Regions from separate parts of the Homo sapiens genome. Here region 2 is linked to region 1. Evidence: fine-mapped expression QTL. A gene starts in region 1. The other region holds a variant in brackets. All regions are shown on one strand. Distances are between the middles of the regions. Region 1 holds the start of DUSP2 (dual specificity phosphatase 2). Region 2 has its middle 82 kb from the start of NEURL3.

What was found. PIP is the estimated chance that this variant, and not a neighbour inherited with it, causes the effect.
Region 2: its variant is the best candidate, but not a certain one, in a credible set for the expression of DUSP2 in whole blood (TOPMed, PIP 0.63).

What each region holds. Positions count from the first base shown.
Region 1 is chr2:96,144,216-96,147,115 of GRCh38, forward strand. It overlaps DUSP2 (dual specificity phosphatase 2), which reads right to left and starts at 1,225. Exons shown (of 4, transcript NM_004418.4): 1 at 752-1,225; 2 at 546-667; 3 at 1-158. The coding sequence starts at 1,139. RefSeq lists enhancers at 155-204, 607-1,108, 1,905-2,784 and a silencer at 835-1,594.
Region 2 is chr2:96,421,928-96,424,827 of GRCh38, forward strand. No RefSeq gene overlaps it. Among named protein-coding and RNA genes, the nearest start is that of NEURL3, 82 kb to the right of the region's middle. RefSeq lists an enhancer at 1-402. The variant G/GA (reference allele first, on the strand shown) is at 1,628.

The DNA of each region.
Region 1 (2,900 bases):
GGGATACTCTTGTAGCGGAAAAGGCCCTCAAAGTGGTTGGGGCAGCTGGCGGACACGTTGAGGACGGCTGTGATGCCACAGGCCTGCAGCCCCTGCAGGTCTGACGAGTGACTGCAGCTGCCCAGGAACAGGTAGGGCAAGATCTCCACAGGGCCACCCTGGAGGGAACAGAGGGGCGGTGAGGCCTTTCCAGCCCAGCCCCGGAGAGCTGGAGCAGCAGCGGGTGGAGACCCCATGGGCTGGCCGAGACAAGAGGACTCCTCAGCCAGTCCTCCTGACCTGAGACAGGTCTCAGGAATGTGCGGAGGACACACCGGGACATACATTTCCCTTCATGCTCCCAACATACACATGCAAACATACACAGACCCATACAGGCACGCGCGAGCAGCCATGCCCCACCCCCTCCCCCAACACACACACGTATAAAAGTGTGTGTATATGGGCAAACTGCTCGCATCCCCAAATGGCAGGCTCTTTCCCTAGAGGCGCCCAGTCCGCGGCGGGGAGAGAGGGAGGTTCGGGGGAGGGGGGTCAATACTCACCTGGTCGTAGACAGGAGCCCTGGAGTCGGAGCGGCTGGTTTTGTCCCCTGTTGGCGGCAGCGCAGGGGCGGGGGCCTCAGAGCACAGATCGGGACAGCAGCCCTGGAAGCCGTCGAAGCCTCCTGCAAGGAGGGGAAGAGCACGATCAGCAGGGAAAGCCGGGCTGGAGTCGGGTGGGGCGGGCCAAGGGCGGCCGGCTTGCTCACCTCGCAGGAAGTACACGGCAGTGGGCCCCGCGCGGGTCTCGTGCAGCAGCGCGGCCAGCAGCACATGAGCCGGGCTGTCGGGCCGGAGCTCCGCCACCGAGGCACTGCCCTCGTCCAGCACCACGGCCCGCGCCAGCTCCCCGCGGACCAGGCGCGTCCGCAGCGCGCGGTCGGGCAGCAGGCAGGCGAGAACGGCGGCAGGAGGGCCGCGCGCGCGGCGCCGCAGCAGCGCGTTCCAAGGCACTGGCCGCGCGGCGCGCACGTGGCGCCGGCAGAAGGCCAGGAAGGGGCGGCAGTCCAGCAGCAGCGTGCGTTCCGCCTCCCGCGGATCCCGCAGCAGCGTGCCCAGCGCCGCGCACTCCAGCTCGCGCGCCGCCTCCAGCCCCATGGCCACCGGTGCCTCTTCCTCTTCCTTTCGGTCTTTCCCGCGTCCCGGGCTCTCGTGGCGGTGGCGCTGCCCGAGCGGTCGACTCCGGGCGCCCTCCGCGGCGGCCCGGGTTAAGTACCCGTGGGCCGGCCTCCGGGGCACCATACAAGGGCAGAGCAGGAAGGCGCTGGCGCCCGCGCCCGCCCCCGCCCCTCACGTGGGGCGCAGTCTGGGCTGACCTGGAGACTTCGGGGCGGGGGGGAGGTTGAGGGGGAAGGCAGGGCGCGGGGACCAACACACCGGGAGGAGGCGGGGACCAGCGACTAAGGGAAGGGAAGGTGTTACCCGGAGTCGGAGGGACTAGCACCCCTCCGTTTTTGCGCCCACCCTTTGACCTGTCCCAAGCCACTCAGTCCTGGGGAACCCAGCTTCTCAGATGCAGGTCCCCCTTTAGGGCCAACGATGACCCTTGGAGTACCCCACCCCCTAACCCCACGCTTCCTCTGCCTTTTCCCTTTCCCTCCCAGAATTTTCCTCTTAGAAATTTGTCACCACAAACATTGACAAATGCCTGCTGCCACGGGTGATTTCTACACTGGATGATGGGGGGGGTCCCTGCTGAGATGTCCTATTTCTCATCTATTTGGAGACCTTGAGCCAGAGGGACTTTCTCTCTCCTCCCCCTCCCCACCCCCCATTGCCTGGATAAGACCAGTACTCAGGGTCTTGCAGTAGGTTGGTGGCCAAGCTAGGCCAGAACACAGTCCCCGGGGCCCAGGCCCCTGGGCTTGGGCCGAAGGGAAATGAGGGGGGGTCCCAGGGCCTTTCATGGGGAAAGCAGGGGTCTGTGACTGGTTTCCAGTTATGTGTAGGGCAAAGCTTCTTCCTCCTGGGTGCAGGGAAAGCCCCCAGGCCCCAGAGAGAAGTACTTCCCCCTGCCACAAGCCCGCCCTGGAGGGAAGTCCGCTGACGCTCCCGGCCCTCCCCAGGCCTGCGGGGATTTCAAGACCTTGGCAAGGGGAAGAGGGAGAAGCAGAACAGAACTGGCCTCCCCCATCCTAGGCCTCCCTGTCCAGCCCCGCCGGGCAGCAAAGTCCAGGGCTAGCACTGCACCCGGAGGACTGGGGGCCTGGGTATCCCCTCCATTCCGCCCTCCCCCAGCCCTGCTGCCGGATGTGGTGAGGCCCAGGTGTGCGTGGGGTGTCTGAGCCACAAGAATTGTTGGCAGTGAACTCCCAAACTCAAGCAGAGAAGTTGAGGTGGGTGGAGACAGCGTCACTGCGCTGGAGCTGCCCTCGCCCTGCCCCCAGCTGCGTGGGATTTCAGAACCCACCCTCCAAGCCCCCAGTCTCCTGAGGCCCTCCTCCGTGCCCTCTGAAAGACCCTTCCGGCTCCCCCACAGACCCCTGTGTCCAGACCGTCTTGAAGAGTGACAGCTGGGACCTGTGGAGAGCCCGCAGCCCTTCTGGACTTGTCTGCCCTGAGTTCCTCACAGCAGTGTGCTGTATGCCTGGTTGTGTGCAGGGCAGCATCGTACCTGTGCAGTTCCACTATGTGTGAGAAGGAGCTGGAGCTTGTGTGTGCTGGGGTCAGAGCCGATGCAGAGGAGAAAAGCCCCAAGGACTCCAAAGGTCCCTGGGGCCACGTCACCCTCTCAGTGTCTCCATCTGTAAGGGGAGCACATCATGGTGCAGCGGCTCTTCCACACTGGCTCCAACGCTCTAAGGCTACTCCACTGTCTGGGCAACTTGGCTGAGGCCCCGCTGTCCCTGGCAGGCCAGT
Region 2 (2,900 bases), 280 kb after region 1:
ATTTGTCAAACTCATTCTCTGTCCAGTTTTGTGTTCTTGCTGGAGAGGACTTGCAATCATTTGAAGGAGAAGGGGCATTCTGGTTTCTGGAATTTTCAGCATTTTTGCACTGGTTTTCCTCATATTTGTGGATTCATCTACCTTTGATATTTGTGGCTAATGACCTTTGGATGGGGTTTCTGTGTGGGGCTTCTTTTTGTTGATGTTGATGTTATTGCTTTCTTTTTGTTAGTTTTTCTTCTAACAGTCAGGTCCCTCTTCTGCAGGTCTGCTGCAGTTTGCTAGAGGTCCACTCCAAACCCTATTTGCCTGGGTATCACCAGCAGAGGCTGCAGAACAGCAAAGATTGCTGCCTGCTCCTTCCTCTGGAAGCTCTGTCCCAGAGGGGCACTGGCCTGATGCCATCTGGAACTCTCCTGTATGAGGTGTTCGTCAACCCCTGTTGGGAGGTCTCTCTCAGTCAGGAGGCACGGGGGTCAGGGACCCACTTAAGGAGGCAGTCTGTCCCTTAGCAGAGCTCAAGTGCTGTGCTGGTAGAACCCTTATTGTCAGGATCCACTGCTGTCTTCAGAGTCGGCAGGCAGGAACGTTTTATTCTGCTGAAGCTGTGCCCACAGCCATGCCTTCCCCCAGTGGCTCTGTCCCAATGAGATGGGAGTTTTATCTATAAGCCCCTGACTGGGGCTGCTGCCTTTCTTTCAGAGAGGCCCTGCCCAGTGAAGAAGAATCTAGAGAGGCGGTCTAGTGTGAGCACAGATTTCTATTCTTAAGACTGAGTATAAGCTAAAAGCTGAATTAGAGTCTCAAGATTCTCTCTCTGTAAGAAGCTGGGTTACAGTCAAGTTTGTTTTGTTTTGTTTTGTTTTTAGAGACCAGGTTCTTGCTCTATCACCTAGGCTGGAGTGAGCAATCATAGCTCACTGTGGCCCTGACTTCCTGGCCTCAAGTGATCCTCCCACTTCTGCCTCCTGAGTAGCTGGAACTACAGCTGTGTATTAGTCTGTTCTCATGTGGCTAATAAAGACATACCCGAGACTAAGTAATTTATAAAGGAAAGATTTTTAATGGACTCACAGTTCCACATGGCTGGGGAAGCCTCACAATCGTGGTGGAAGATGAAGGAAGAGCAAAGAGACGTCTTACATGGCAGCAGGCAAGAAAGCTTGTGCAAGGGAACTCCCATTTATAAAACCATCAGATCTTGCGAGACTTATTCACTACCATGAGGACAGTATGGGGGAACCAGCCCTATGAGTCAGTTATCTCCACCTGGCCCTGTTCTTGACACTTGGGGATTATTACAGTTCAAGGTGAGATTTGGGTGGGGACAAGCCATATCAAGGTGCATGCCACCACACACACCTAACTTTATTTTATTTTTTAGAGATAGGATTGGCCCAGGCTGGTCTCAAACTCCTGGGCTTAAGCAATCCTCCTGCCTCAGCCTCTGGAAGTGCTAGGATTACAGACATGAGCCACAGTGCTAGGCCCAAGCATCTTTGATTGGAAGCTGCCTGCTGTACTGGAAGTCCCGCTCTTTGTTTGCAGTGGAGATGATTCATTCATTCTCTGACTCCTAGGCCTGGCTCTGGGCTGGTAAATTCTTCCTCACTTTGTTTCAAGTGGG[G/GA]ATCCCCTCCCCAAATCCTGGGCTGGAAGATTCTTCCCTGGCTCTTCATGAAGGCTCTCTGTTCTCTATTTGGCCCTGCTCCTCCCACGGGAATCTTTCAGTCCACTGAAACTTCCTTCTTGAACCCTGGCTAACTATATGCTCCACCAGCTCTGTCCATCTTCTTAGTGCATGAGCTGGCTGAGGATAATTTAGAACTTGATTGGTCTTTCTGGGAAACTTAAGACCTCCCCAAAACGGCCCCTCTAAGACCTCCGTCTTCCCATTATTTCCTCCTCCTTCCTCCTCCGACCACCTTTGATCTTCCCTTCAGCTCCCTTGAATCCTTTGATGTGTCCCCTTTAAACTCCTCCCCCTCCTGCCTCTGTCCACCCCCACCAGACATTTCTCTTTCCCAGCCCTTGGCTCCCTCAGCCATTTCAGTCCCCCTGCCCCAATCAGGGGCTCTCAGGGGACTCATGTTATCCCAAAAGCAACTTCCTGAAGCTGAAAAGAAAAAAGCTGATTGGAATTAGATTAAATTTTTATCCACTCACGTGGGCTGTGAGGACATTCAGGCAGCCCCCAGCATCTCCTTAGTAACATGCTTGAAATGTGATCCACAGGCTCCAAGGGATTACATAACAGGGCAGAAGGAAATCTTAAAAATCTCCCCCACAAACACATACACATACACAAAAGCAACACACAATTCAGATACAAATATCAAAGATAAGAGTGTATTAAAATTTTAGAATGGGCCTTGTGCAGTGGCTCATGCCTGTAATCCCAGCACTTTGGGAAGCCGAGGTGAGCAGATCACTTGAGGCCAGGAGTTTGAGACCAGCCTGACCAACAAACTGAGACCCAGTTTCTACTAAAAATACAAAAAGTAGCAAAGTGTGGTGGTGCATGGCTGTAATCCCAGCAATTCAGGAGGCTGAGGCATGAGAATCACTTGAGCCAAGATCAGGCCTGCACTCCAGCCTGGGCAACAGAGCGAGATTATCTCAAAAAAAAAAAAAAAAAAAGGAACGGAAAGCTGTAAGATCTCTATTTGCATTTGTCCATGTATGTATGTGATGTACATGTGATAGTTTTCTATCTCCACATGGTGTTGCCAAAATTAATTAATAAAAGAGCTCTGTCCAGTCTCTACCAAAAATACAAAAAAATTAGCCGGGTGTGGTGGCGGGCACCTGTATTCCCAGCTACTCAGGAGCCTGAGGCAGGAGAATCACTTGAACCTACGAGGCGGAGGTTGCAGTGAGCCGAGATCGTGCCATTGCACTCC